Regions from separate parts of the Homo sapiens genome. Here all the other regions are linked to region 1. Evidence: fine-mapped expression QTL. Tissue or cell type: whole blood. Region 1 holds a variant in brackets; each other region holds the start of a gene. Each region is shown on its reference strand, or each on the opposite one. Region 1 overlaps IKZF1 (IKAROS family zinc finger 1). Region 2 holds the start of CIC (capicua transcriptional repressor). Region 3 holds the start of VSIG4 (V-set and immunoglobulin domain containing 4). Region 4 holds the start of SYN2 (synapsin II). Region 5 holds the start of PPTC7 (protein phosphatase targeting COQ7). Region 6 holds the start of AKT1 (AKT serine/threonine kinase 1). Region 7 holds the start of EXOC3L1 (exocyst complex component 3 like 1).

Region 1 (4,000 bases):
ACATGTGAGGACAGTCACACACTAGACACAAGGCAAAAGGTGTGTCTTTTCTGACCTGGTCATGCAGATTAATGAGTTTTTGAAATACCACTTTACATGTCATATACTTAGGAAAAAATATGATTTCATTCAATGTATTTTGCAGATGAAGAAAGAGGAGGTAGGCCTGCCCCACACATCCCGATTCTGGTAAGGCAGAGAACTGAAGCTTAAACCCAGGACTTCTGCTTCAAAATCTTTTACAACAAGCTGGGCTCACCTTCTGGAGGATTTTTTGGGGGTTTGGGGAAAAAGAGGTGGGTAAATTTATAAGTCAGCTCAGAAAGCAATTCTCACGACTTCACAATTAAGCCTTATTTGTGAACAAAAAAACAGCATTCCTCAGGTTAAGTTAGCACTTTATTCAAAGGTCTAGGCTCTAAAAGGATTTTGGACTATTTCTAAAAGGAAAATAAAACCCAGACTCAAATATACAAAAGCAAGTGCTTGGGTCTCTGAAGGTAATCAAAACAGGGAGATGCAAAATAAATGTGAGTGATGAAAAAAATGCGGATTCTCAACGTTAGGTCTTCCAGGCATGTGTGCTGGTGCATTAGGCCTTCAGCCCATCACTGCTGCACTGTATTACACTCTAGGTACACTCAGTTAAAGACATGAAATGACCATAGCTAGAGACAGTAACATTGTAACCACAGCGTGTCTTCTCCTGGCACAAGCCTCTTGTACAAAGAAGTAGTTCTCCTTGTCCACAAATCTCAAACCAGGAAATCCCTAATTCATTTAATGATCAGGAAAATGCAAGAGATTTGTGTAGTTGTGACTCTTCCAGTTACTCCCCGCTGTACCATTATTTTAGGTTACCTATCACACAGGATGGTGTGCCTGATGGCACTGGCAGTCATTTCTCTATGTCTTGTAGAAAAGTTTACTCCTGGGAAAAACAATTTGGTCACTAGTCCTTGGACCTAAGTAACAGAATCTTGATGAAATGGTACCCATGATCAAATGTTAAAAGGAAGAAAGGGATGGAGAAAAGAAGAGAGGAAGGAAGGAAGGAGGAAAGGGAAAGAAAAAGGAGGAAGGGAGGGAGGGAGGGGAGGGGAAGGGAGACGAGGGGAAGGGAGACGAGGGGAAGGGAGGGAGGGTGGGGAGGGAAGGAGGGAAGAAAGAAAGGAAGGAAGAAAGAAAGGGAGGGAGGGAGGAAAGAAAAAAAGAGGAAAGAAGGAAGGAAAGAAAGGAGAAAGAGAAAGGAGGAAAATTAAAAAGAAAAAGGAAGAAAGGAAGGAAGGAAGAAGAAAGACAGGAAGGAAGGAAAAAGGAGGAAAGAAACAAAAGGGCAAGCAAACAAGAAAGGTCAAAAGACAGTAACGGCCCAATCAAAGCTTCCATGACGAATCTGTGCCTTTTTGGATCATGGTGTACTCAGGAAATGCAGCCGCCACAGGAGCACACGCTGTCTCCTGAACTGCAGGAAGAGCAGCGGTTAGCAGCAGGAGGTGTCCCTTTCACAGGAAGGCTGGGGTCTGGGCTGCACACTGCGGAGCAGATTCACATGCCAGGGTGGCCCCGCTTGGGCTATGAGGACATGGGTGCCAAGGTGGAACTGCTTTCTCAGGCTGCAGGCAGGCAGCTTGCTGCTTCTCTTTCTCTCTTTGAAAAAAAAAAAAAAAAGCCTTTCCTTCACCACCTCTCCTCGGTTGCTT[T/C]ATCAGGTTGCAAAAGCATCTTTTAGGAAGTATCAAGGGGCATCACTCTCCACAATTTTTGCAAAACAATTCCATAGTTGTGATGGTGTCTGTCTTTGCAGCTTAGTTTACTTACAGCCTGTCCTCAAGGGCGCTCTCTGGGAACCTGCCTCATGTCTATAAAGCAGCTACCTCATTTCAAAAATTTAAAGAGGACTTCCCAACTTAAAAAAGTTACCATAGAGTACATGGGAATACAATGAAGGGATGAAGACAAAAATTAAATGTCATGTTTTTCTACATTTAATTCAGCTACTTAGCTTTGAAAAACTGATTTGTTTGACATGTTCACATGTTGTTGTATTCTCGTTACTTTGTACTTAACCAAAATGCCTACAAGTACAAGACCTGTACTTAAAACACAGCTACATAAAATAAACCCAATTGATGTTAAAATTGGACTGGACCTAGATTTTCTTTACATCAAATGTGGGCAAAAAATGAAAGACTTAAAAAGCAGATGTTCACATACATTTGTGACAACACTGAGAAAATGTTTTGAAAAGCAAATTGATTTAAAAACTACTTTTAGAGAGTTGATAAATGACTAGTCTTTGGCTAACATTCAACAAGGGTTAATCTAAAAAGTTTTTTTTTTTTCCACAATATAATGACACACAGTTCTTTGGAGCTCTCAAGATCTGCCTGCCTGTCCAATAGGTAACCCCTAGCTGCATGTGACTCCTGAGCACTTGAAATGTGACCAACCCAAATTGAAATGTGTGGTGAAGATAAAAAAAAAATACATCCGGGGTTTCAAACACATAGTTCAAAAAGAGTAAAATATTTCATTAACAATTGCTTATATTGAGTACATACTTAAATAATATTTAAGCATACTGAATTAAGAAAATATATTCAAATTAATTTCACCTGTGTCATTTTTCTTTTTTAATGTGACTACTAAAAATGGACCAGCAAATATGCAGGTCAAATTATGTTCCCCTTGGACAGTGCTACGCTGGAATTTCTGATTTCTATATTTCACAAATAATGTTCCACAGATGCTAGTTATCATCCATCTGTAAAACCTCTGTCCCTCAAACAATGACTGTTCAACGTTGTTGCGTCTCATAAGGCATAAAGCTGGGCTAGGACTGTCTGCCTATGTCCTGATTAGAAAGACTCCATACAGCCTGGATACGGTGCCTCACATCTGTAATCCCAGCACTTTGGGAGGCTGAGGCAGGTGGATTACCTGAAGTCAGGAGTTCGAGACCAGCCTGGTCAACGTGGTGAAACCCCATCTCTATTAAAAATGCAAAAAATCAGCTGGGCATGGTGGCGGGCGTGTAATCCCAGCTGCTTGGGAGGCTGGGACAGGAGAATCACTTGAACCCAAGAGGTGGAGGCTGCAGTGAGCCAAGATCACACCACTGCACTCCAGCCTGGGCTGCAGAGTGAAACTCTGTCTAAAAAAAAAAAAAAAAAGACTCCATACCCAACATTTAAAATATGTGTGCAGGCACAGGGCAAGCAGATTTTAAGGGTATATTTTTAGGAGACTCCATCAATAATAAAACATGGTTATTGAAATGGGAAAAATTAACTAACACATATAAAACCTTAACAGAAATTTTTACACTTAAAGCTACAAAGTCAAATATAAAAATCAGTGTTGAGACCATATATAAGTAGCAATAATGCTTTAAAACTGCGAGTAAATGCAGCCTTTACAGTGACAAAAACAACTCCATTGTCATCTCAGGATGAAAGTCACTTCACTTAGATCACAGCATTCTCTACAGAACAATAATTTCACTAAGGATTACTTGCACCATAACACTAAGATTAAGTAAGGGTGGCTACACCTGGTAATAGTTAATTGTCACTAAACATTATGGACAGAGTAGAAATGCTTGGGGGGCACTGGCAGATTCTTAATTTTATTGCCACCAAGTTCAACTGGAGAGCACAGAGATATTGCAAAAGCAGTCAAAATTCTGCCAGGTTCCAAGAATCATAATAAAAATGATCATATAGCTGCCTGTAGAAATATAATAACAGCACTTTTCTCATTTCAGCAGGATTTCACTTCTAGGGTAACAGTCCTTCACTCTGAAAAAGAGAACAGCCACATCTGCCACTGGGCTCTGCCATGCAGCAGGGGGCCATGCTGAAGGCCTTCCATCGATCACACCCAGCCTGGTGAGGAGTGACACCGGATGTTCAGGGCTTCACCAGAATCATCTCCTGGTGATTTCAGTGGAAATCGACAGCCTGCAGCCACATCCCCTGTGGGGGAAGTACTCTCCTGG
Region 2 (4,477 bases), not on the chromosome of region 1:
GAGGATTACGCGGAGCAACTCAGGAACCTCTCCAGAGCCAGTGTACCCTAAGATTTCCCACTTGCTGAGTCTACTGTCTCCATCCCACCATCCCCAAGGCCTCCTCTCTGGCTGCTGTCAACTCATGTGATACCTCAGTCAGCACCAGGCACAGGTGAGCACCTGAGTCCCCTGAGTATACACACTCTGGCTCCTTGGGGAACAGACACCTGCTGGCTCTGCAAAGGACACAGAGCACATGCTCTGAATGCCCCAAGGGGACATCAAAAGCACTAACAGTTCACACCTATGGAGCACTCCCTGTGTCCTGAACTCCATGCTAAGCTTGCCTTTATTAACCTGTTTCATCCTCACAACAGCCCTAAAAGCAGGTGCTACTATCGGCCTCATTTCACACCTGAGGAAACTGAGCCACAAAAAGATGAGACAACTTGTCCAAGATCATCCAGGTGGGAAACAGCAGTGCTAGGGTCTGAACCCAGGCTCTCTGGCTCCAGAGTCCGTGCTCCTGACCATTTCAGTGTGCTGCCTGTCACATGATCCAGAGGGCACATTTACTCGCACTGTCACCATGCAGAGAGTACATGCACTCAGACACACACACACATGCACAAGTACCAAGTCACAAAAAGGGTGGTGACTGGGCTGTGATATGAGCCTTTCTCCACCCCCCCACCCTCCCTCTGCCCCTCTGGGCAGCCTGGCATGGCCAGGCACTGTGGGAAGAAGTGGGCAGCTGAGAGTCCCGAGGGACGGCTGCCCACTCTGCTCTGCACCCTAGGGCTGCCAGGTACAGCCATCTCCCCAGATCCTGGCAGGGAGCAGGCAGGGGCATGTCTGGGGCAAGAGCTCATACCCAGCACTGCCACGGGGCCGTGCATGAGCACACGCACGCGCACAAACACACACACACGCACAGAAGCACGCACACGTCATCACACAGTGGGACACAGAGCTACACCCCAGGGTTTCTCTGTCCCACTGGATGGGAGCCTGCTCCTCCCCCCACAGCACCCAGCGTGATACCCGCAAGCCCAGCCCCCCTCTTCTTGCCTGCATGCATCCCCGCCCTGGCTGGGCTGGCTCTGGCAGGGTGGCTGAGTCGGCTAGCCCCCCGCAGGCCCCCAAATATGCCCTCCAACTCCAAGTGGGGATAGGTGGGATAAGGTCAAAGAAAGCAGGACAAGCCCAACAGGCCAACCTCACCCACTTCCTGAACAGTCATTACTGCCCGCCCCCTTTCGAGCTGCCCTGAGAAAAGAAAAGGGGAAAAAACTTTACTCTGAAGTGACTAAGAGAACCTGAGAGGCCAAAACAGAGGCCTCTAGGAGGGTTGGGGGACCCAGAACCATAAGCCAAACACAATGAGAGGCAACCCCGACTCAGTCTTCCAGCTACTGGGGGACCCTTGACCTCATGCTCTCTCACTAGGGGCCTGCTCCTCCTGTGGACCCTGGAGTCCCAGGCCTGCCCTTTCTTGGGCCAATCCTGGGGTCCTCACAGGCAGAGCCTGGAGGGCGTCCCGGGGCTGGCACCCAAATGCCCAGAAGTTGGGCAGCCATCACCACCTAATACCCGCTGACCCACTAGACTACCATGTTGGGGACTGAGATCTGGCTCCAGTTTTTTCCAAGCACAAACCTTTGCATACCCCACCCAGGGCCTACAACTATGCCGCCTGGACCCCTAGACCTTGCTGCCTGGCCCAGCCTCTCTTCGCCCCAGAGCTGCTTTCTTTCCCCTAGGGCCTACTCTCTTCCTGTCCACCCTGTCTGAATAACTCCCACCCAAGCCCCGGGGGCCCTCACCTTCCTCAGATCTGAGTAGTAACTCCCGGAGCCCAGGCCAGCCCAGGCCCTGGCTCTTTGGGGTCTCATACCCTCTGTTCCCATTAGCCCTCCTGGCACCAGCTTCTCTGACACTCTCTCTCTCATCCTGTCACTACCTCTATCTCTACCTCTCGGTTAAAATGCCCTAGGCCCCCTCCTGTCACCCCCTCCTTGTCACCCCCATTTATCTCTGTCACCTATTCCTCCCAGTCACTGTCCTGTCAGCCATCTCCGGACCTGTCACCTTCTCTCCCCATCACCTCTCCTTGTCACACTCTCCAACTCTGTCCCCTCCCTCTCCCTGTCACCCTGATCTAGTCCTGTCACCCCTCCATTCCTGTTACCCTTCTTTGCCCACCACCCCCTCCCCCAGTTACCCTTTTTCTGTCAAACCCCCACCACTTCCTCCACTCCCTCCTCCCTTCCCACCATTCCGCCCACCCCTTTCCCCCTGTACCCCCTCCCCGTCCCTGCCACCTGTCCCCTCTCGGCCCCCAGCCCCCCGGACCCCCCTTTCCTGTGTCAGCCCTGGCCCCGCCCCTCACCTTGGGCTCGGCGGGGTTTCGGGGCGGGGGGCCGTGGCCCCGGCTCGGTCCGGTCCGGTCCCTCCCCGCCCCCCCTCCGGCTCTCCCTCTCGATTCTCCCTTTTTTTTTTACTCCAACACACAAAATGGTGAATGGACCTGCAACAGCTGGAGCAGCCAGCCAATCAGCGATCACAACCCCACTGACCGGCGCCAGCCTAGACCAATAGATATCCGCAGACTGGTCGGCTCCGCCTCTCGACGACGAGCGACGCTCGCGGCGACCAATTGGGCCCATCGGGCAGCGCTAGGGGGCGGGGCCAAAGTCCAAGACCGGCCTCCCTCCGGGACCGACACCAACCTGAGCCTACGACTGCCTGATCTGCCTAGGGCCCTACCCTACAACAAGTGAAGGACACCAGTCGTGTCCAATTGCAGGCCGTCTTAGTTCCAAATGACAAATACAGTACCCAGTCGCCATGCAGCCTAGGCCGGAACCCAGCCTCTGTGAGGGACAGTAGCCAATGAAATGAAAGGAGGAGGGGCTAAGGGACGGGTTGTCCAATGAACGGAGGTAGAAGGCGTGGCCCGAACGTTTGTTGACCGGCTAGTCGCAGTTCCTGCTGGGAACCGTAGTCTTCTCACGTCTTCGGCCCATAGCCGACAGTACAAGGCAGACTACAACTCCCATGTGACAGAGTGCTTGGAGCACCAAAGAAACCCGGCGAGGAGAAAAAGTCGAAAAGGGCAGTTCGTCGTGAGTCTCACTGGACGCCAGGAGTATCTTAGACCCAGGGCCCCGACTCACCCGTATTCCTGGCTCTGGCGTCGCCGGTGGCTCCTCTCAGTGGCAGCGGTAGCGGCACGAGGGGGAGGTGCAAGGAGCAGCCAACCGCCACCCGCGAGCCCCGCAGCCAATCAGCAGCGGCCGGGGCGGTGCAATGACCTCACCGGTTCTACTCTCTTACCCCTCCCCCACGTGGTTGTTGCTGCCGGTAGACGGAGTAGGGAAGTTTGGATTGGGGGAGGGGAGGAGAACCAGTGATGTCACCTTTCCCCTTGTTGATTGGCTGCCGGGTGGCCGGGACTACGACCAATTGACGGTCTCGAAAAGTCTGGCGCGGCCCCGCGGAAAGCCCTGTTGCCACCGGGAGGGGAGAGAACGCGCGCTTGTGGGGTGTCGCGCGCTGCAGTATAGGCAACGCGCGCGGCCTGGGGCCCGGGGGACAGGTCACCTCCTCCAAGAGTTTGACATTTAGGACAGCGCAGTTTGACAGCCCACTAGGCATTGGGGCAGGGGGCCGAGATGACGAAATGCAGCGCTTCTTGGGGCTTCGCACTGCATTACGTGGAGAGCTACACTTTGTGGGTGTACGCCCCTGACAGAGGCAGATTTTTAAAGATCCCAGGGGTAGGAGGGTATCACACTGGAGTGGAGGAGGACAGGGAGATGCCCTGTTTGTAGTAGATGCCTGCTGCCCAGATACGGGTTTACAACCAGATGGTGAACCTGTCTGCAATGCATCTATGCCCTCCACTTTGTATTCGCCCTGGTCCGAGGCTAATGGGAAGCAATATGGGTACGCTGGCCGCAGGGAGGCTTTCTTTTGCCTGTGACAGGTTCAGATTCCACACTGGAATTCACACCACTTGTGAGGAAACTGCATCCAGTCTATTGCAAGTCATACTGTCCATGAAACACTCAAACTACGTGTGAAAGAATGTGCTAGGGCATAGAGCTAGTTCATAGCATAGAAGAAATATTAGTTGTCCAATGGGGTTCATGGAATATGAAGGATATTCACATCTATGAGAAAGTCCCACTGTTCACAAATTATTTGTGTTGAGATTGGGGGAAATTCACTGTCCACGAGGAGTTCACACTCGGAAGGAATCTTATAACCTACACTGTTGTTATTATTATTATTATTTTTTTCCCCGAAACAGAGTCTTGCTCTGTCGCCCAGACTGGAGTGCAATGTCGCAACCTCGGCTCACTGCAACCTCCGCCTCCTGGGTTCAAGTGTTTCTCCTGTCTAAGCCTCCTGAGTAGCTGGGATTACAGGCACACACCACCACACCCGGCTAATTTTTGTATTTTTAGTACACACGGGGTTTCACCAT
Region 3 (4,477 bases), not on the chromosome of region 1:
AATGAAAAAGAAAAGTAGTGTAAGGGAGTATAGAGTGGTAGGGAGAGATACAAGAGTATGTGCAATAATACCCACCTGAGGGGTTGTAAGAACCAAGGGAAATAACCCATGCAAGGTGCTTAATTCAGTGACTGGAAGAGTAAAAGATTTTAAATAGCAACTATCATTATATAGTTGTTATTGTATGTATAGTATAGTTTGATTTTTATAAATCTGAAAAGATACAAGCATCAAGTATAATTATGTTCATGTTACAATTAGGGAAGCTGAGGTTCAGAGAGATTTGACTTGTTCAAGATCTCAGAATGAAGTAGACACAGAGCCAGGCTTATCTCCAGGTTTCTGACTTCTCATCCAATTCTTTTACTAATCAAGAGGGCTACTGAGCCTACTGCAAGACTGGAAGTCTTTCCCAGCCTTGAAGTAATGTTGTGCATACTCCCCAGGACATTTATTTATCTTCAGATCCAGGAGGTCCTAATAAAATGCAAGAGGTAGCACAAAACACACAATCACCTGGCCAGGCAGAAATTTACATCTGTCCAGTGGGCTTTTTAGCGGGGAAGGGGAGGGGTGTGTGTGTGTGTATGTGTGTGCGTGTGTGTGTGTGTGTGTGTGTGTGTGTCTGTGCGGTGGTGGTGGTGTAGTGGTGATAGGGTGTTGGTTGAAAAATATCAAAGGAGGGTTCTGTGAAGTTCAGGGTTTCCTGAGTGAGGACCCGGTGGGAAAAAATGGCTGAAATTTCCAGTGAGATGGAATGAGTGCAGTACTCAAAAAACAAGGAACAACCAGCCAAGGGGGATTGGGCCCTAGAGGCAGAGGTGATTGATAGAATTCCATGTAATAATGTGTCCTGAAATGCTGGAATGTCTCCTTAGCCCGTGCACAGCTCCAAATCATCTGCATGCAGCCACCCCTTGGCAAGTATGTTTCTTTATATTCCCACTCCCCATCTCTGCACAAACTCCTCCCTCCCCTGACCAAGTCCTTTCCTATCCCTCCAATCAAAGAGTAAACTAAGCTTAGCTGTTACTTACAGTGCAGTATGAATTTTTGGGATGTATTTGTGCTTTTGAAAGTGCTTATTGTTTCAAAGCTTAGTAGACAAAGCGCAGTGCCAAACCTAGTTAGACTGCTGATGAAATTACAGTCACTCTGGGGCCTGTGAAGAGGAGCAATTTCTGGAGCAGTTGAGCTTTGCTAGGAGGCATAATATTACTCTCTTGTAGGTCAAGGGCCTGTACCAATTGGAAGTCAATGAAAAATTCAACCTAATACAGCATACCACTAATGGGCTGCTGCACTGGAGGCTAGGCTTAAATTTCCCTTAAAAGAAGTAAAAAATAAATTCCTTATGAAAAAGCATGGAGAACATTAATGAAAATGAATTCTCCCTTACCATCAGAGAGGTGGAGCCATTGTAGAAAGTGATTCAAAGAGCTTCCCCAATATGAGATATGAGGCATATTCACCCATAACAGCCTTATCCATTGGCTTGTCAATTATTCAAGCTTTGATGTGTAGAAAGCCCTTTAATACACTAAACTCTTGTACTCTTAAGCCCAAAAGCACCCCGGGCCCAACACCCTGTCCAGTTGCATAGGCTGCACAGGCAAGGGTTAACAGTACAACTAATGAAAATTGGGTAGGTCAGCAAAGTTGATCTCTTCTCCCTGGGCTCACCACAAAGGAAAACACCGCCATACTGGAGTGGGAAGACTCATCCCAAAGGTCGCCCCCACAACCTCTGAATCTTGTGGAGGAGACTCAAAATAAATACAGCCTAGGAGATCAAAGACCAGAAAGCCCCATTGGCTCCAAGGAAAGTCAAGTCAATACCCTAGCAGGGGGAAGAATTGCTTCACTCATCCTGGAACCTCCAACCCCAAGGAGGTGGGGGAAGGGGGGCACCCCACATGACCTGTACTGAAATAGGGAAGGAAGGGGAATGTGTGATGGGACTAGGAGTTTGAGTGAGAGATATAGGGAAGGAAGGGAAGTAAGCAGTCACAGACGCTGGCGGCCACCAGAAGTTTGAGCCTCTTTGGTAGCAGGAGGCTGGAAGAAAGGACAGAAGTAGCTCTGGCTGTGATGGGGATCTTACTGGGCCTGCTACTCCTGGGGCACCTAACAGTGGACACTTATGGTAAGGCAGAAAGGGGGGCCTGGCTGCCATTGCTGGCTTAGGCAAAAGGCTAGAGGGTTGGTGTTTAATGTCTACTATGGAAAGCCTATTCCTACTGGGCAGGTGAGTCTTCTCAGCCAAACTCTGCAGGCTCTCTCAGCCTTGAGCAAAACGGATGGATGTAGTTGAAGGCTGCTGAAGAAGCCAGAAGGCAAGTTTGGGCAGAAATTGAAAAAGGATTTTTCTCTTGGAAAACATCTGCATTATTTTCTAGGGCTTGTATCTCAGGGGCATCAAGAAGGTTCCCAATGACATCCGAATCTTTCCTCCATCTGCTGTCTCTCATCTAAAATTCTACAATTGGACTTAACCACTCTGCTTCCAAGCTTTGGTCTCTGTTAAAATATACAGCCCCCGAAGAAGGAGTGTTTTCTAAGAGTTGGATAGGACTATAGAAGTAACCTATACCACCCTTCATTGTCATGAATAAGTGCTCAGAAACATCCAGTAGTGATTGAGATTTCACTGTTCACTACCTCCCCAGACCATCTAGTCCATCCAGGAGCAGCTCCAACTGTTAGAAAGTTCTTATTTGTGTTGAACTAAATCCAGTTCCCTCTGACTTCCATCCAAAAACCCCAGCTTTGCTTCTTGGGGCTACACAGAACATAGATGCTTCCTTGCCCTGTGATAGCCCTTCAAAGCCCTGAGGACAAGTACTATGTCTCCTTGACTCTTCTCTCCTCCAAGCTGAACAGCCCCAGCTTTTTCAACTGGTCTTCATAGGACTTGGTTTCTTACCCATTCCTGGGATAACTCACTTCCCTATAGACATGGCTCAATTTGTCTGGGCTATTTATGGGCTGGATACAAATCCCAAAGGAGGATGGACTATTCCATAGTGGCATTATTTCCTTGGAGCTTGGGAAGCTCTATCCTCATCTACACTCCTGAGAAGTGAGATGGATTTTCAGGAAACTCAACCTGGGTAACAGCTAAGTGAGATCCAATATAGGGTAAAGGGGGATTTTGCTGCTTCCCTATCATCCCTAGAGAAAAAGGCTGGATAGGTGTTAGCTTGGTGTCACTTGTTAGGTCAGAAAGAATCCAGCTTTCCGTAGCTGACTCTGATTAGGTTACCCTATCCTGGGGCTCTGTGACCCATCACACTCTGGAACCTCAGAGTTAGAAAAGACTCTGAATTAAGTCAACCAAGAGAAAAAATAATTTGCCCCCAAGCCAAAGAGCATTAGTGGCAGAGTTAATGCTCCTGAAAAAACATTTTTCTTTCTATAACTACCACATTTCCATTCTCTAGCAGGTTTTATAATGTATCTCTCTACCTTCTCCAAGTCTGTTGGTTTGAGCTAGGGCTTAAGCCTGGGGCTTGAGGGAGCATTTTAGAAATGTTAAATTTAAATCCTTTGTTTGTGTGTGTGTATGTGTGTGTGCATTCATGTGTGTGTGTGTGTGTGTGTGTGTGAGAGAGAGAGAGAGCACTCATGTGTCTTGTTCCTTCCCCAGCCTATGAGCTTTTCCAGACCTGGAAGCAGGCCTTCCATTTGTACACAGGATCTTATACTATAGACCTCAGGCTCAGGTTATGCTGAGCTGCAAATAATACCTTCCCTCTCCCTGGACCTCATTGTTCCTAGCCCATCTGTACAGTGAGGAGGTTGACTTGACTGGTCTTAAAGGGGTTTCTCAGCTGGACAACTCTGTGGGACTGCAGCTTCACTGCTAAAAACCCTGTAGCGGCCAGAGTAAGCTGCTAGCCTCTTCCTGTGGGGCTAAGAGATATGTCAAGATAATCAAAATTTAAAAAATTTCTAATATTCACATTTTATATACATTTTAAACATTTCAGAAACATTTTATAAACATCTATTATATAAGTTAATCCTCCATCCAGGAGGCATTCCAGGAAAGGGAGAGAAGCCAGTCATGTGGGGGAATGGGATAGAGATATGGAAAATGTCAACCTCTTTGTGATGATGGGAGGAAGGGGATTCAGAAAGAGACCTAGAATGGGTCTTATAAAGGAGCACACACCTAGTAAATTCAACCTTTCTTTTCTTCAGTGCCATTACACAGGCATCAGACATTTGCTTTTATAAGGCTGGGTCTCAGGACCACATTAAGCTCAATACTGTATATATACTTATCAGCAATAAGTATATATACTTATCAGCAATAAGTATATATACGTATCAGTAATAAGTTTATATACTTAGTAATAAGTATATATACTTATCAGTAATAAGTATAATATAATATAATGTTATATATTATATATAAGTAATTATCAGTAATAATTATATAATTATTATATATTATATATAAGTAATTATC
Region 4 (4,477 bases), not on the chromosome of region 1:
ATTGCTAATAATAATAGTGAGGCAATATAACACAGTGGAATGAAAGCAGTGGAGTCAAACAGGCCTAAGTTCAAATCCTGCTTCTACCACTTGCTGGCTACATGATTGTAAACATATTACTTACCTTTCCTAAGCCTCAGTTTTGTGAAGAAAATGCAATGAGATATCATGCTGAGAGTACAGCATTTGGCATATAATGGATGCTCTGACTGAGCACCTTTACTAGCTTGGTTACCTTCCCTTCCTCCGTAATAAGCACTTGTTGATATGAACTGAGTCAGAGTAATTCTAAGGAGGGCTGCCAGTGGCACTATCATATGCATTACACTTTCCCCATTACCCTCTTCCATGTGCCTTTGTCATTTCCTGGCAAAAGTCCTTTCGGATTTTCTACTCTACTCTCTTGAAAAGGCCAACCACATAAGTCACCCAAAGGACTATTCAGAATGGTGACATTAGCAGCCAGCAGGAGGGCATCTCCACATCTGCATCTCATTTCCACCACACCCACACGCCAGCACTCCCTCCCTCTGGGTCTCCCAAAGAGAGAATGCTAGAGAGAGAAAGCAGTGAAGCAGCCAAAAGAGGAAATGGAGAGAAATAGCTCTGTGGTCTCTCTGTGCACCCCTCCTGGGAAGAACACTCAGGTCCAGTCTCCAACCTCAACCCCTATGAGAAAAAAAAAAAAACAAAACCCTTGCTCACATTCCTGGAGAAAAGGCACCCCCAGATTCTCGGCCTCTTCATTTCTCCAAGCCCTTCACCTATCAATTTCACCATCCCACCATTCCCTAGGTTAACTATAAAATAGAGCCGCTTTTAACTAATTTGTCTTCAGTGGACCTCATTCGTACTTTTACCAAGCAGCAGCCTTCACCATTCTAAGTTGGAAACATGCTACCTATCTCTTTAGAAGAAAAAAAAAATTATTGAAGTTTCCCATCTACTACATTAAGGCAGGTCTCCTTTTATTTGTACCCCTTTAATGATCCAGTATATTTTACCAAGGTCTTCATCTTTCAGCTAGAAAAAGCTACCATTCACTTCCACGCCCCGCCCCCCACCACGCACATTTCAGAAAAACAAGCAATCAAAAAAAAAAAAAAAAAATTCCACACGTCCCCTCCCTGCTGCACAAAATACAACAATTTTATTATTCATAAAGAGACTTCAGCCATGCTCCGGGGAACAAGCCCGTGTACACCTGGGCCACTACATGTGTGATTTCATCAACCTGATGTCAATACTTGATATCAGCCTTCATGGGTCCTGGTTAAAAAAAACCCACCACCACCTTCTCCCTCCAAAATACCAATTTCCATTCCAAATTCACTCCGTGCTTCATGAAGTTAAACCTTTTTTACTGGCCCTAAATGTTCCTTCGGCCTCCTGGGACTATTTCACTTCAGATTTTATGTGTCTAAGCTAACAAGTGTGTCCCCTCCTCTACCCCCAAAAAAACTATTTCCTAAGGGCCTTTCCTGTTGCATAAAGTAGCTCCTTCTTGTATGGGACCTGGGGGACCTGGGGCAATTGAGGGGTATTTTAGCTTTGGGTTCGCCTTTCCGGGCTGATGGATGCCCTCCCTCACCCCGCAAACGCGCGCGCGCTCAGCCCGCACCTCCTCCCAGCGGGACCTCGGGGACCCTCCTTTTTATTGGTCTGAAACGTTTCCTCGGCGACCTGGGACCGTCCTCTCCTGGCCTGCGGCTGCCGGCGGACCCCGACCCCCGAGGGCGGCGGCGCCCGGCACCTACCAGTCGGCGTGCGGCTCGTCGACCACCAGCAGCACCTTGGCCTTCCTGGCGGCTGCGGGCGCGGGAGCGGGCGCGTCCACCAGGCCAGCCGAGGCGGCCGTCTGCTTCACGGCTTGGGACAGCGAGCTGAAGAAGCTGCTGCCCACCGACGGCGTCGGCGCGGGCTGCGGCGCGGGCGCCGAGGCGGGCGGCGGCCTCCGCTCCGGGCCCGGCGAGGCGGTCGGGGGCGCCGCCGAGGCCGAGGCGGCGCCCGGACCGGGGGGCGGCGGCGGCGGCGGCTGCTGGGGCTCGGGCCGCTGCAGGTCGGTCATGTAGCCGTTGGGCAGGTTGGCGATGAAGCTGCTGTCCGACAGCCGGCGCCGCAGGAAGTTCATCATCTGGCTTAAAGGGCTGGGGGCGCGCGGGGCTACGGGGTCTGGTGGCGCGGAGGGAGAGCGAGGGCGGAAGGCGAGATTGAGGCGACTGAGGCGGCTGAGGCGGCGGCTTAGCCAGCAGAGACTCAGGCCCCGGCACCAGACCCCGCAGACAGCAGCGGCGGTCTGGGCCAGGCAACCCGCGCGGCGCGAGGCTCGCGGAGAGGGAGCGGGCGGGGCAGGGGCGGGGCCAGAGATAGCCCCCGCCCCGCGCCGCAGAGGCGGCCCCGCCCCGCTCACGGAGGGCACCTAGCCGCGCGTCTGGCGACTCTCGGGGCTTGCAGGAGGGGGCGACCCAGGCCTCCAGCAACCTGAGCGTGACTATGCGGGGAGGGCGTGGGAGCCAGGCCTTCTCCCCAGGGGAAGGAAAAGGAACCAGAGGCCCCACCATCTTTTTGGTTGGAGAGAAAAAGAGCCGTGTCCCAGCTGAAATGGAGGCGAAGGAAACCGACCCCACTCCTTTTGGAAGGATAAGAGGTGTCAGCCTCCCTATGCGGAGGTGAGAACGAAAGGAGTCATCCCAATCACGCGCGCACACACGCACACAAGCACGAACACCCTGTAGTGAGGAGGAAAAGAACCACCTCCTTTCCCAACGCTGGGGAGAAAGATGTCATCTCCCCAGCCCCCAGAAGAGGGGGAAGGGAATAATCCGCTGTTACTAACACACACACACACACACGCGCGCGCGCGCGCGCACACACACACACACACACACACACACACACACACACACCCTATGGTGAGACAAAAAAGAAATACCTCTTCTAGGGAGGAAGGCAGCCTCCTTACTCCAAGGCGAGGGAGAGGAAAGGGGAGAAACAGATCCTCTCTACTCTGTCATGGAAGGAGGGGTGGGGTGTGTTTTCACTCCTGCACTTCTAGGGACAACAACAGTATGTACTTCTCTCCCCCTCCTCACTGACCAGTGAGAGAAAACCAAGAGAAGACTGGAGACATGGTCTCCACCCCAAGAGGGATATCTAAGGATCCCCCAACCCCACCGTGTTTCTTTCCTAGCATGCATTGATGCATCCAGTGCTATACCAAGAAGGACATCTCTTCAAGATCTTTCTACTTGTTTTTTCCATTTTATTCGTTGCCTTGACCTCTGTGAAGACATTTCTGATGGCCACCTTCCCATGTGCACTCTCTAAATCTTGCGTGACTCTTGGACCTTTAGTTTTCATCTCTCATTAGATATACTTTCCCTTGTGTTGTAATGGAGCAGGACACAGCAGATAGGCTTTACAGCAGACTACCCCGGGTGATATGTGACCCTGGATCAATAACCCCTGTGAGCCTCTCTCCTTAGCTGATAAAAAGGAATAAGTAACCCTTTCCAGAGTTGTTACATGGAGTAAATGAGATCATGTATGTAAAGCATCTGGTACACAGCAGTAGGTATTCCAGTAGTGATGCCTGAATTCTTTTTTCAATTGGTTCTCAGTAAGTATGTACTGGGCTGAATGGAGTCAGGGAGTGGCTTGTCACTAATGTTGGTGGGCAGTTCTTGCTTCCTGTATCCCAGCTGGCACTCAACTCAGGGCCTAGAGATACACAATCCAGCTCTGAGCCGGTGCTATCAGAGAAGTCTCCAGTCAACTATAATAACACAGTGGTCTTCCTATCTACTACATGCTTGGCACAGTGGTAAGAGCTGGAAAGGCTGAAATGAATGGGAAGTGGCTCTTGTCTATTGCAAGTTCATGATCTATGTGGGCTGGGGGATGGAGGGAGGATAGACACAGGAACCACATAAGATGTGAGAAATGCTATCATACAGTTGGGCAAAGAGGGTTAGGAGGCCTAAGGAGGGAGGGACTCATTCTGCCTCTGAGACTTAGGAAGGCCTCTCAGAGGAGGTGACATTTGAGGTGGATCTTGAGGCAGCTATGTTTACCAGTAGAAAAGTGAAGAAGGCAGGCAGGCAGGCAGCCAGAGAAGGCATGGAGAAGGTATGTAAGTTGATGGTTCCTCCAGGAAGCCTTTCGTCAATCCTCCAGGGCGGGCTAAGTGTTCCATATCCTGTGCTTGGCTTTGTCATAGACCCCAAAGAAACTATCATACAATATTCTGGTGACTAGAATGTAAGCTTTTCTAGGACAGGATTATGTCTTAGTTATCTTTGGGCTTCACACCAAACACAGGACCTGGCATGTAATAAGGACTCAGTTGTTTGAGAATTGAACTGTAATCTTACCCAACTCGGTTTTTGTGTTTATTGGAGAATAAAACTGATAAGTCACTAATAACATAATTAAATAAACTTAATTATTGCCCTTCTTAAAAAAAAATTTTTTTTTT
Region 5 (4,477 bases), not on the chromosome of region 1:
TTCATTTGCCGGAAACTCAAGGCACTGGTATCACTTAATCATGAAAACAGCAGCCCCATCGGAGCAGAAGTTACTGGCTTTAGAGTCACATTTTAGGTTCCTACTCATCCCATCAAACCAGTTCTTGTGACTGACATGGAAATTAGGTAATATATGCCCTGAAAAGGAAAAGTAGGAGCAGTCTGAAGGAGTTTGACGAGGCAAGAAATAGGGTTGACATGCTATTTTAAAAAGTTTGTCCTTGGGGTAGAATTACCTGCCAGACTGACTGGGATCTGGTAGTGGTATGTGTACTTGAAAGAGCTACCTTTAGCACAGCTGGCAGCAATATAAATGCCAAGTAGAGGATTCCGAGAGGCACTACCCCCTCTTCTGGGCACTCTCCAATTCTTGTGCCATTAAAAAAAAGGAAGGTGTGAATGCATTATTGTCATTACTATACCATTTATCCAGTAAATGAACATTTTCTGGGTTCTGTATATTTGACAAAATGCCACTACGTGAAGTCATTTCTTCCGTCCAATTTTGATGAAAGCTCTTAAAGACAGAAACATATATATAGACAGTACTTGGCACACTGTGAACTGCAAAAGTGTTTAATGATGACAGTAATTAGGATAACGGAATAATATGTGTTGAGTTGATAGTTGGCAGCATTTTAAATATATTAAGAAAGCATAAAAAAGGACCATTTAAAAACGAGGTGGGAATCCCCAAAGTAACAATGGTCTTGTTAAAAGTGAACTAGAAAAAGACTGCTGTTTCTGAGAAATATATGTTTCAATCAAACTAAAAATTACTCTAAATTGAATTACTTGCCCCAAAGCTCATTTTCTGTTGTTTGTGAACCCCATTCACTCAATCATTCCTGTATTCAACAAACATGACTTTCTTTTATCATTTGTGTTCTTATTCCATTACTCCTTCCTTTTTTTTTTTTTGAGATGGAGTCCAGCTCTGTCTCCCAGGCTGGAATGCAGTGGCGCTGTCTCGGCTCACTGCAACCTCTGCCTCCCAGGTTCAAGCGATTCTCCTGTCTCAGCCTCCTGAGTAGCTGGCATTACAATCGTTTGTCACCAAGCCCAGCTAATTTTTTTTTGTATTTTCAGTAGAGACCATGTTGGCCAGGCTGGTGTTGAACTCCTGACCTCAAGTGATCTGCCCACCTCGGCCTTCCAAAGTGCTGGGATTACAGGTGTGAGCCACCACGCCCAGCCCATTATTCCTTCTTTTATTCCACAGACATTTACACACTCTCCTACTGTGTGCCAGGCATTGCTTTAGATTCTAATAATTGAGCAGCAAATGATCCTTGTCCTTGGGAAACTTAGAATCTAGTGAAATATTCATTCATTCTTTCATTCATTCACATATTTACTGGGTGCTCACGTGTTCTGGGGATACAGCAACAGAAAACACAGGACCCTCAGGTAAACGAATTACATTCCAAAGGGTAGAAGCGAAAGCAAGGGCAAAGGTCTTGAGACAGCTGTGAGCATGGCTAGAGGCCAGTTAGCAAAAGGGACATGACACCATCTGTGTCCCCTCCCACTCTGATAGGGACACATAACATTTTCTCAATTTTTCCTAAAAGACTACAAAAAGTCTCTTCTTTCCAAACAGTTTGCCGCCCTAAATCCTTCCAGTATATTACTTGGGGAGGTGTCACTAGATCTGTGTACCTCTGTTTCTCATTATGTGACTCCATTCTGGTTTCTTGCAGGTTTTTGTTTAAAGGAATGGTGGCGTTATTTATTTAAAACAGGCTTTAAAAGATACGGTTAAAACAGGGTAGAAAACCCTCACGTGGCCCACCTGCAATTCCTACTAACTTAACATAGGTCCCGCGTCTGAGGAATCCCCCTAGGTCCTAAATCTTTGGCAGCCAAGTCAAAAGTGACTACGACTCCGGGACTATAATTCCCAAGAGACACTGCGTCCGCACCCTCTGCGCATGTTCAACCTTGGTGACTGCATAAGGCAGCGAGCCCAAGGGGCTGGGCTTGGGCCTGAGCGGTGAATCGGGGCGGGGCTAGGGGCAGGGCCAGGGAGGGGGCGGTGCTGCCGGCACCGCCCGGAACACGCTAGTGGAGCGGAAGATGGCGGCGGCGGCGGCGGCCGCTGCAGCCGGGACTTCAGTTGGGCTGAGGCGGAGGAGCCGCCGCTTCTGACCTCGCTCTGGCTCCGGTGCGCGCGGCTGAGCGCGTGCGAGGCCCCGCGCGTCGGGCAGGGGCGGCGGCGGCCACTGCGCGCCGCCCTGAGGAGCGCCCCAGCGGCGGCGCGACTGCGGCTGAGGAGAGAGCCGGCTCCGGGCCTCCGCGTCCTCCTGCTCCCCCGGCCCCCCGCCTCCTCGGGGGGGCGGCGGCGGCGATGTTCTCGGTCCTCTCGTACGGGCGGCTGGTGGCCCGCGCCGTGCTCGGCGGCCTCTCGCAGACCGACCCCAGGGCCGGCGGCGGCGGCGGCGGCGACTACGGACTGGTGACGGCCGGCTGCGGCTTCGGGAAGGACTTCCGTAAGGGCCTCCTCAAGAAGGGCGCGTGCTACGGGGACGACGCGTGCTTCGTGGCCCGGCACCGTTCCGCGGACGTGCTCGGTGAGTCCCCGACCCGGTTCCCTTGCCCCAGCCTCGGATCCGCCTCCCGGGGACTCCCCGCGCGGGGCTTCCCCAGTTCCTCCCGGCGGCGAAAGGAGCCAGAGCGCTCACATGGAGGGAGCGCTTACTATGCGCCAGGCGCCGTGCCAAGCGCTCCGAGGCGCGTTTTCCGCTTGAACGACCCCCATTTTAGAGAGGAGGAAACTAAGGCGCACAGCGGTCAAGTCGTGTGCTCAAGGTCACAACCCGAGAGTGTGACCGGTCTGTCCGAGTCCAGAGCCACACTCTCGGTCTCACTCGGCCGTGCCAGCCCTGGGCGACCTCGTCCCCTCCCTGGGCGACACCTGCAGGCTCCTAACCTCGTTCTGGTTCCCTCTCCGCATGCCCCGGGGATCCCTGCCTCTTCGCGTGCTCCCGACACCACAGCCCGGCCCAGGCTGCGGGATCGCCGGCCGACAGGCAGTCGTGAGCCCCCAGACAGCCCGGCCGTATTCTTTCGCCGCCTGGATGGTAACCAAATCTTCACCCTTTTCGGAGTGTGGCGGTGGGGGCTGCTGGCTTGGCGAAAAAACCCTCACAGCGTTTTCTCCCAAATTGATCTTGTCCACTTGCGGTCACTTGGGGGTTGGCAGAGTCTCCTTGATCCAAAATAGAATGGTCGAGCCTACTTGTAGATTGCAGCCGGTAAAGCTCTGAGGATTGGTCACAGCCTTTTCAGGCCACAGGTGCTCCCTGAGGCCTATTCCAGTTATACCTTTTGGGGGTGGGAGACTACGGAGAGAGCTGGCAGAAAGGGCTAAATATAGTTCACAAGCAGTCAGAAACTTTACCATAATGTACGCCTTAGGAGATTTTGTGTATGCTATGGGATATTGTGCCGTTAAAACTCTTTGAATGAATAAAGCAATGCGCTCGCTTTGAAATTGAAGGACGTGTTGTCATTGAACTTGGGTTCAAATGTCACTTTGATTTCCCTTCCCAGGTGAGACTAAGTTTTTGGTTACTTTAAATTTCATATGCTGAGGCAGAGTTTGGCATTGGAACAAATGATTCTGTAACTTTTTTATGACAGTAATTATTTTTTAATCTGATCTCAGAATAATTGCCTAGTATCTTTGGTTCTACTACATGTAGTGTTTGTGAACATGGGACTGGAAAGGTTGTTCTCAGTTTAATTTATGAATGACCCCATTACCTGGGTTGAAGAAAAAGCATTTAATGTTTAGGCAACGCTATTGATATTAACATGAGAGGGAGACTTAGAAAGGTCCTGCAGCTTGCAGATTGAAATTGTACAAATCCACCCCGAAGTCAGCTGTCAGTGGCTGTCTTCCCTGATACATTTAGAAGTGCCTCACTCAATGAGCTTGTGACCTGTGCTGCGTTTTTTTTTTTCAGACGGAGTCTACCTCTGTCACTCAGGCTGGAGTGCAGTGGCGCAATCTTGGCTCACTGCAGCCTCCGCCTCCCCGGTTCAAGCGATTCTCCTGCTTCAGCCTCCCGAGTAGCTGGGATTATAGGCGCCCATCACCATGTCCAGCTAATTTTTGTATTTTTAGTAGAGATGGGGTTTCACTGTGTTGGCCAGGCCGGTCTCGAACTCCTGACCTCGTGATCGGCCTCGTGTTCGCCTCGGCCGCCCAAGGTGCTGGGATTACAAGTGTGAGCCTGGCCCCTGTGTTGCTTCTTAAAGTTGTGTTCATAACATAGGATAGGGGATAATGAGCCTCTAAGGTTCACCTCATAAATCTGTATGCTGGGCTGCGCGTGGTGGCTCACTCCTATAATCCCAGCACTTTGGGAGGCTGAGGCGGGTGGATCATGAGGTCAAGAGTTCAAGACCAGACTGACCAATATGGTGAAACCCAGTCTTTACTAAAAATA
Region 6 (4,000 bases), not on the chromosome of region 1:
CCCAGGGCCCTCGAGTCCTGCCCCCGGCCAGCAGCTGCAGAAGGTGACAGGGCAGGAGGCCCCTGAGCTCTGGGAGGAGGCAGCCGTCGGGCCCTTCCCTGGTGCAGCAGTTTTTGTCGGAAACATCTGGCCACAGAGCACCTCAGCAGTCCCAGCAGCAGCCGTGGGGCTGGGTTCTCTCCTGACCATTCTGTCTGGGGTGGGAGGGGGTGTTCTTGAAGAGAGGACTCTGCTTTCCCTCTGGGACGCTGGAGGAGAGGGAGATGGCCCTGCCCACTGGGAGATCCCCGTCTTGGGGGAGGGCAGTTCATGCCAAGGTGAAGACAGGACTGGAGTGTGGGGCCCACAGTGGGTTGCAGGCACCAGCAGATGCCAGGGCACCAGGCTGGGAAGACTGGGAGGCCTCCTTGGAGACAGCCAGTGCAAAATAAGCAAGAGGTCCAACCACTTCAAGAACAGCCCGCAATGTCACTGCCTCTTCCATGAGAGGGTGCCCTGCTCCCTCCCACATCCCCAAGCCTCGGCCACTTGCTGGCCTTGTCTCATGGCCCTCTTACCCTCTGCTTCCTCCCTGAATTCCTTCCTCCATCCTTGCATGGCAGAGCCCAGGATGGTGGACAGATACCAGGAACTCTTCCTCGGGGAGCAGTGGGCAGGTGGGACAGTCCCAGAGGGAGCCCCAGGTGGCTCATGGTGCAGGTTTGCTGGGTGAGAGACAGACACCAGACGCCCAGGCTCTGGGGGCAACCCTTGTGTCAGGTATCCCACCCAAGCGGCGCAGACCACTGGGCCTCTGACTTGGCCCCCTGGAGGTGGGCCCTTCCTGGGGTTACAAAGTCTGAGCTGGGAGGGAGCAGAGGTGCTCAGGCGAGAGGCAGGAATGGGGAGTCCCCTGTCTGAGGAGCGAGTGCCCTCATGCAGGGGGAGAGAGTCCTTCTCTTGGTCAGCCCCAAGAGGCAGGGATGAAGCCCGAGTTTTGGCTGCAGACTCTGTCCTGAGCACTGGGCCGAACCTGCTGCCTCTGTCTGCATCTCCTCCCACCCCCTCCCCTGCTGCCAGCTGAACTCACTCTGGCTGAAAATAAAAATGCTCCCCCAACCCCAATACTTAGCAGCCTCAGGAAGGTAACTCACAAGAGTCTGTCTTTCACAAAAGGGTTATTATCAACTGTGGGCCTCTGGAATGGGGGAGGGGCAGTTGTCGGAGGAACTTCTGGCTAGGAAGGGGTCGGGGTGGCAGTCACCTGCACTCTCCTGTGAGTGTCCAGGAGAAAGGGGTCTGTGTCCCACTTACTCATTCCATACCCGGGCCATCTGCCTCCCAGTGGACTTCGGACTGGGTGTCCGGGCTGACCAAGTCCACCCAGCAGGGAGGGCTCTGGGCTGTCAGCTGTCACAGCCCACCCTAGACACCGCTCCTCCTCTGTCTGGTGTCTGCTCCCAGCTCAAGGTGGGAGCCAGGCAAGGTGTGCCCCTCTTCTCCCACTCCCCAGCAAAGTCCCCCTTTTGTGAGTGTAGCTGCCAGTACCTAGGTGAATGGTTGACTCCCCTCGGAGCCTTCCTGCTCCTTGGAGGCCCACCTCCAACTGACCTCCTGTCCTGGCATCCTCCCGCACTTCCCCCAGAGGCACAAGGTCTTGGGATTGGGCCTTTTAGGTCACTCTTGGCCGCCCCCTCCACGCCCCCCAGAGTGGGGCAGCCTGAAAGTCAACCTAAGCCACCCCCGCCCCGCGCGCGGAGGCAGAAGTCCGGGATTCGTCCCTGACCTGTCTCGGGCCCCTTCTGCTAGGGTCACGGCAGAGCGAGCCCAGAAGCGCCGGGTCACTTTACAGACGGGGAAACTGAGGCCAGAGAGGGCGTGGCCCCGGGACGGGCTGGCTGGTGGCCGGGCTCCGTTAGCGGCCCAGCCCAGGCCCCAGGTCGTCGGGAGCTGCCCCTCAGCCCGGCCGCGCGCTCCCCGAGCGCGCTCCGCCCTCGCCGCCGGCCGCGCGGTGGGGACGCCCCGGGCGGCGGAGGCGGATGTGGGCGGGCGGCTCCGGGCGCGGGGCGGGCGCGGGGCGGGGAGAGGGCGGGCCGGCGGCGGCGGCAGGACCGAGCGCGGCAGGCGGCTGGCCCAGCGCACGCAGCGCGGCCCGAAGACGGGAGCAGGCGGCCGAGCACCGAGCGCTGGGCACCGGGCACCGAGCGGCGGCGGCACGCGAGGCCCGGCCCCGAGCAGCGCCCCCGCCCGCCGCGGCCTCCAGCCCGGCCCCGCCCAGCGCCGGCCCGCGGGGATGCGGAGCGGCGGGCGCCGGAGGCCGCGGCCCGGCTAGGCCCGCGCTCGCGCCCGGACGCGGCGGCCCGGTGAGTCCCCGCCCGCCGTGGCCGCCCGGGCCTGGATTTCCTCCCCGCGGGCCGGGCCGCTTTGTTCGCGGCCGGTCGGGCCGGGGCGCGAGCCGCGGCGCCGCCAGAATGGAGGAGCGGGAGCAGGAAGTGGCCGAGCGGGCCTGGGCGGGGAGGGCGCGGGGCGCGCGGGCCCGGCCAAGGGAGGGCGGCCCCACGCCGGGCGCCGGGGGTGCAGGCTGCCGGCCCCAGCCTCCCTCATGACCTTGGGGAGGCCGCTCCGCCGGGCGAGGCCGGGACCCGAGAGAAGGGACGCCGCCGGGCCTGGAGCTGGGGCTCGGGGTGCCCCTGCGGGCCGTGGGGCTCCCCGGGCGCTGGGCCAGCGAGGCAGCCGGCGGAGGTGCCCCGGGGTTGGAGAAAGACTCGCCGCGGCCGGCCTTCAAGTTTGTGGGAGGGCCCCGGAAGGAGACTTCGTTTCCCACGGACGAAAAGTTGTACGTGGTGGCGGGGTACCCAGGCTAGCCACAAAGGACTGTGACCCTCCTGGGCCCCGGAACTGCTTCCTGTCTTGGGTGGGCCCTGGAGGTCCTGCCCGCCCATCCCAGAGGCCAAGGCTTGGAGGGCAGCTGGGGCTTGCCCCTTAGATTGAGTATCCTGGGGCGCTAGCGAGCTTGGTCCTGTCGGGACGGCCTCTGAGTGCTGCCTTGGTCAGCGGGTGAGCTTGGGCCCCTGCTCTGCAGCCAGAGGCCGCCCCACATTCACTCCTGGGTCTCTCGGCCTTGCTCCAGGTGGCCACTTCTTGACTGCTTTGAGTCCCTCATCCGAGCGAAGGGCGGACGGAGTCCGTTGGTGGGGGTCCGGTTGCCTCTCCCGGGAGCTGTGTAGACTTCTCATACACCAGGGTTCTGGAGGCAGATGGAGGAGCCCTTTCGAAAACAGAGTATTTTTTTTTAAGTTGTGACTTAATAATAGTAGCAAGAATATGTGCTTATGGTAAAGGCAGGCGGCAGGTACGGAGGCTGTGGGAAGTCGGGGTCCCTCCGCCCCCACAGGCAGCCCTGTGCTGGCCTGGTGTATACGTTTCTGTGCAGACGTACACCACCCTGTGTGAGCACAGATGTATTTTTACACATGGCTCTGGACAGCTGTCTGACTCTGTCAGCAGCAGGCCTTGGAGGGGCTCAGGCCCGTGTGGGGGTGGGGGGACATCCAGAGGTCTTTGAGTCCAGCCCTCTGCCTCCAGGCCACGCCCACTCAGTGTCGTCAGAGCCCCCTGTGCCTGAGGCGTGCGCGGCTCGGAGCCCTGCCCTCGGAGTCCTGCGGTGCCTTCCTCGAGTCTGGCCTGCTTTCCATCCTGCTAAGTACTTGGGGCATTTCCCTCTTTGGGTAAGGTGTGGTCTTCCCTGTCCTGGCATTAGACACAAGGCAGTGGGCCTTCCTGCCATTCTAAGTGTAGCTTAAGACAATCAGTGCAAAGCAACCCTTTGTGGGTGTCCAGCCCTTGCCTCGGGAGGCCAGAAAGGTGGCCTGGGGGGAGAGCGTCTAAGCTGGCTGTGGAAAGACCCATGTTGGGATCCATTCCACAGAGGTCGTCAGGGGTCTCTGCCTGGCCTGGAGGTCCCAGAGAGGACCCTCCTCCCCTCAGGAAGGCCCATCTGGAAGGGTAGCAGAGGACTGCT
Region 7 (4,477 bases), not on the chromosome of region 1:
GGGGAGGAATGAGAAGGGCGTCAGTGGGCCGCCCTGGCAGTAGAGAAGGGGACGCCATCGGAACTTTCCTTGCCAATCTGCCCCAACATCACTAACTCTGCCTAGTCCCCATCTTGGGAGAGGAGACCACACTACCTGACTAATCCAATCTGCTCCCTCAAACCTGTTCCTTTTCCATTTTTTTCTCTTTATTTATTCTTTTATATATTTCAAACTCATTTTACTGCCACATCAAACCTGTTCCTAAAGGCTGCCCTACTGTCTTGGGGTCACCCCATCTATTCCTATCCCTCACTTCCTGCCAAACAGCAAGCACTAACTATATCTACCTTGTCCACCTTGTTCCACCCATGGTCCTAGCCTCATCTTTCGCTCGTCTTGTCCTCACAGTACAGTGCTCAGAGACTATGGGGTTATGAACACTTCAGCCAATGCAAACGTGTTTACCTATGTGTAAATATCAGTAAAGCACTCAGTCATTCCTGGCATGCAGGAATGTGTGATACGGTCATTTTGTAACTTTTAACATTGTTACTATTTATTATTGTTTCTTTTAGATCAGGTCCTCTGGGAAATGGGACTCGAGATAGGGTTTTGCAGCAAGTTTGTTGGGGATCCACACTTTTTTTTTTTGAGACAGGGTCTCACTCTGTTGCCCAGGCCGGAGTGCAGTGGCAAGATCAATGCCGTCTCAGCTTCCTGGGCCCAAGCGATTCTCCCACCTCAGCCTCCCAAGTAGCTGGGACCACAGGCATGCACCACCATGCCCGGCTCATTTATTTTTAGTTTTTTAGAGATGTGGGTCTCACTATATTGCCCAGGCTAGTCTTGAACTCGTGGGCTCAAGAGATCCTCCCACCTCAGCCTCCCAGAATGCTGGGATGACCGGTGTGAGCCACCGCACCTGGTCAGGATCCACACCTTTAAGGGATTAAGACAAGCAGAATTGAGCAGATGCAATTATATTATAGGCCTCAGCCTATCCCACTAGGATCTCTGAAATTGGGGTAGCACTTCTGAAGGGTTCATGTTCACACGATGGTACCATGCTTTTGCACCCCAATATTGACTGAGAGACTCAGTGGTGTGATCTCAGTAGCCTACACTCCTGGCAGCTGGAGAATGAGCACTTCTGTCCTGAAGGGTGGATTTGGGTGGTGGACTGAACATCCACTAAATAATTACCACCTTATAGTCCCTTCCCTGGCTCCCTATAACTCTCAAGATAAACACAGCTGCCCAGTTGCGGTGACTCACGCCTGTAATCTCCCAACACTTTGGGAGGCTGAGGCAGGCAGATCGCTTGAGCCCAGAAGGCTGCAGTGAGCTATGGTGGTGCCACTGTACTCCAGCCTTGGTGACAGATCAAGACCCTGTCTAAAACAAAAAAGATAAACACAGCTTTCATGACCCTCTCCTACCACCCCCCACCACACCCCTCTTCACAAGAGCCTGCCACCTCTCACTCCTCCGCAGAGGTACACATCCTCCTCAGAGGCTGGCCAACACAGTTTTCATCCTGTGCTGTTGATGTCGTCTGCATCCATATCTGCACACTCTGCCCACCACCCCAGGTTGAGGCCAAGTCTAGCAAATCCCTATCTCCTCTCCTGAGCACTAAGAGGTTCTGGGTAGGCTGGTCAAGACTGGTTGAGTACAAGTACACCCCACCCCCCCGCCCCTCAGGGAAGTGTCGCCCAGCTGTCCCCACCCTCTGTGCAGACACTCTTTCCTGTTGGGAATAAAATGCCAGAGACTCAGCTTCCTTCCTTTCTGTTGATGGCCTTGGGGAGGGAGGAGCCTCGGTGGGAAGAAGGGGCTTCTGGGTGGGGAGTGGGAGAGAGACTTCCTTGGGGAGAGGAATTCAGCTGCACGCTGGAGTCAGCTGGAGTTGCCCAGGCCCTGTGAGCAAGTGGCAGGCGTGCCCAGCTGCATTGGGGAGAGGGCTGTTCTCAAGGCCAAGGTCATTTTTGGAGGGAGAACTGGACGCCTGATCAAATCTGGTAAGTTCTGTACCAAACTGTCCTGTGCAGCTCAGAGCAGGACCAGGGTCCAGTGGAGGCCTGTGCCCACTCTGTCTCGCTTGACATCTGCAGGGGCACGACTGGGAAACCTAGCAGGCAAAGCCTCCCAGGTGCCCTCCGCATCACACCCGCTCCCTCTCACTTCCCGAGGGGGCCGGGAAGAACCTCCTTCCTCCTCTCAGAAGGGCTTAGACAGAGGCAGCAGCTCACAGGGGCATCTACTCTGCCTGCTTGCCCCGGGCCCACCTCAGCTCTGGCTCCTCCAGGCCCACAATGGACTCAGCAGCCAAGGATGAGATGCAGCCGGCGTTGTCCCCTGGTATGAACCTTTTGGGTGGACTAGGGGAGGAATGATGGCAACAAAGATGGGACTGGCTGGGCGCAGTGGCTCACGCCTGTAATCCCAACACTTTGGGAGGTCAAGATGGGCAGATGACCTGAGGTCAGGAGCTCCAAACCAACCTGGCCAACATAGTGAAACCCCGTCTCTACTAAAAATACAAAAACTAGCTGGGCGTGATGGCACGCGCCTGTAATCCCAGCTCCTCGGGAGACTGAGGCAGGAGAATCGCTTGAACCCGGGAGGCGGAGGTTACAGGGACCCGAGATTGCACCACTGCACTCCAGCCTGGGCAACAGAGCGAGACTCCATCTCAATAAACAAATAAACAAACAAATAAATAAATAAATAAATAAATAAGAAAGCTGGGACTGGGGTCGTTGGGCCCTCCTCCCTGACTACACGGCTGCCCAGGCTCTTCCTTCCCAGGACCTGAGTGGCCAGAGCAGGAGCGGGCAGAGCAGCTGGCCCGGGGTGCAGCGCTCAAGTGGGCCTCAGGCATCTTCTACCGGCCGGAGCAGCTGGCCAGGCTAGGCCAGTACCGCAGCCGCGAGGTGCAGCGTACCTGCTCCCTGGAATCGCGCCTCAAGGTGGGCATGGGGCAGGGGGTGCGGGTGCTGGGACTGTGCTGCAGGGCTGGCCCAGCCTCATGGCTCCATCTTTCCACAGTCAGTGATGCAGTCATACCTGGAAGGCGTGCAGACTGGTGTGTGGCAGCTGGCCCAGGCCATTGAGGTGGTGCAGGGAACCCGGGAGGCCCTGAGCCAGGCCCGTGGGTTGCTCCAGGGCATGTCCCAGGCCTTACAGACTCTAGAGCCCCTACGGGAGCGGGTTGCCCAGCACAAGCAACTGCAGGCCCTGTCTCACCTGCTGCCTCGGCTGCGGGCAGGTGAGCATGCAGGGACCCTGGGCCTCAGCCTCCAATAGTCAGTCCACAAACACCCATCCCTAATCAAGGGGCTGGGGCACTAGATGGGGAACTGCATAGAGCAGCACACCAGGGACCTCCCAGACAGTAGCCCGGGCTTCCCATGGCCTATGAGGCAGCTCATCCTGGGATTCCCACGTGTGGGATGCTTGAGTCAGGACAGACACCCAGTCATGTGACTCTGGCCACCTGGTTATCAGTATATTCAAACTCTTCCCTAACAGAGTGGCTGAGCGAGTACTGGCAGGACCCCCCGATTTCCCCTGCCTTCCCTCCAGGATCCTCAGCTTCCTCATATTCCATGAGTTCATGGGTTGACCTCTGGCCCACCAGGTCTTTAGGACATTGCCAAGATCCTCTTAGATTGGCCAGTACTCTACTGGTTATTTATTTATTTATTTATGGTTTTTTGTTCATTTTTTGTTTTGTTTTGTTTTTGAAACAGAGTCTCACTCTGTCACCCAGGCTGGAGTGCAGTGGTGTGATCTCGGCTCACTGCAACCTCCATATCCCAGGTTCAAGCAATCCTCCTGCCTCAGCCTCCCCAGTAGCTGGGATTACAGGCATGTGCCACCATGCCTGGCTAATTTTTGTATTTTTAGTAGAGATGGGATTTCACCATGTTGGCCGGGCTGGTCTCAAACTCCTGACCTCAAGTGATTCACCCACGTTGGCCTCCCGAAGTGCTGGGATTACAGGCATGAGCCACTGTGCCCAGCTTACTCTACTGGTTGTTAAATATTTTATGCATCACCCCCGCCCTGGGCCTCAGTATCCCCTGCTGTACACATTGAGGCGGTGGGAAGGCTGAGACCCAGGGCCGTCTCCTTTTCACTCTCATTAGTGCCGGCTGCAGTGTCCCACACACAGACTCTGATTGATGGCCAACAGTTCTTGGAGGCATATGTGAGCCTTCGGGAGCTGGAGCAGCTGCGAGAGGATACGTGGGCACCCCTGGGGGGCCTGGAGTTGCCAGTCTTCCAGGGGCTGGACCTTCTGTTCGAGGCACTGGGCCAGGCTGTGGAAGCAGCTGCAGGGGCCGCAGGGAAGCTGGCACGGGAGGACCCAGCCCTGTTGGTGGCTGCTGTGCGTGTGGCGGAGGTGGAGACTGGACGAACAACCCCCCTGGGCCAGGTCCCCCGGGACTGGCGTCAGCGCTGTCTGAGGGCACTACAGGAGGGCCTG

The links. PIP is the estimated chance that this variant, and not a neighbour inherited with it, causes the effect. A credible set is the group of variants that fine-mapping cannot tell apart.
Region 2: CIC starts here. The variant in region 1 is the best candidate, but not a certain one, in a credible set for the expression of CIC in whole blood (TOPMed, PIP 0.74).
Region 3: VSIG4 starts here. The variant in region 1 is the best candidate, but not a certain one, in a credible set for the expression of VSIG4 in whole blood (TOPMed, PIP 0.84).
Region 4: it holds the start of SYN2, and the variant in region 1 is the best candidate, but not a certain one, in a credible set for the expression of SYN2 in whole blood (TOPMed, PIP 0.87).
Region 5: it holds the start of PPTC7, and the variant in region 1 is the best candidate, but not a certain one, in a credible set for the expression of PPTC7 in whole blood (TOPMed, PIP 0.89).
Region 6: AKT1 starts here. The variant in region 1 is fine-mapped to the expression of AKT1 in whole blood (TOPMed, PIP 0.98).
Region 7: EXOC3L1 starts here. The variant in region 1 is the best candidate, but not a certain one, in a credible set for the expression of EXOC3L1 in whole blood (TOPMed, PIP 0.90).

Annotation. Positions count from the first base shown.
Region 1 is chr7:50,340,319-50,344,318 of GRCh38, reverse strand. All of the region lies in intron 3 of IKZF1 (IKAROS family zinc finger 1), which reads right to left. Among named protein-coding and RNA genes, the nearest start is that of IKZF1, 38 kb to the right of the region's middle. The variant T/C (reference allele first, on the strand shown) is at 1,704.
Region 2 is chr19:42,267,279-42,271,755 of GRCh38, reverse strand. CIC (capicua transcriptional repressor) reads right to left here and starts at 2,504. Exons shown (of 21, transcript NM_001386298.1): 1 at 2,375-2,504. RefSeq lists enhancers at 796-845, 3,005-3,514.
Region 3 is chrX:66,037,613-66,042,089 of GRCh38, reverse strand. VSIG4 (V-set and immunoglobulin domain containing 4) reads left to right here and starts at 2,010. Exons shown (of 8, transcript NM_007268.3): 1 at 2,010-2,146. The coding sequence starts at 2,092.
Region 4 is chr3:12,002,209-12,006,685 of GRCh38, reverse strand. SYN2 (synapsin II) reads right to left here and starts at 2,298. Exons shown (of 13, transcript NM_133625.6): 1 at 1,758-2,298. The coding sequence starts at 2,134. RefSeq lists an enhancer at 1,099-1,599.
Region 5 is chr12:110,580,925-110,585,401 of GRCh38, reverse strand. PPTC7 (protein phosphatase targeting COQ7) reads left to right here and starts at 2,084. Exons shown (of 6, transcript NM_139283.2): 1 at 2,084-2,593. The coding sequence starts at 2,371. RefSeq lists silencers at 1,932-2,261, 2,302-2,451.
Region 6 is chr14:104,793,826-104,797,825 of GRCh38, reverse strand. AKT1 (AKT serine/threonine kinase 1) reads left to right here and starts at 2,078. Exons shown (of 15, transcript NM_001382430.1): 1 at 2,078-2,342. RefSeq lists enhancers at 1-156, 157-929, 2,971-3,612, 3,613-4,000 and silencers at 1,767-2,126, 2,307-2,356, 2,387-2,706.
Region 7 is chr16:67,187,497-67,191,973 of GRCh38, reverse strand. It overlaps EXOC3L1 (exocyst complex component 3 like 1), which reads left to right and starts at 1,838. Exons shown (of 14, transcript NM_178516.4): 1 at 1,838-2,003; 2 at 2,291-2,343; 3 at 2,794-2,954; 4 at 3,034-3,253; 5 at 4,137-4,477. The coding sequence starts at 2,298. RefSeq lists an enhancer at 1-96.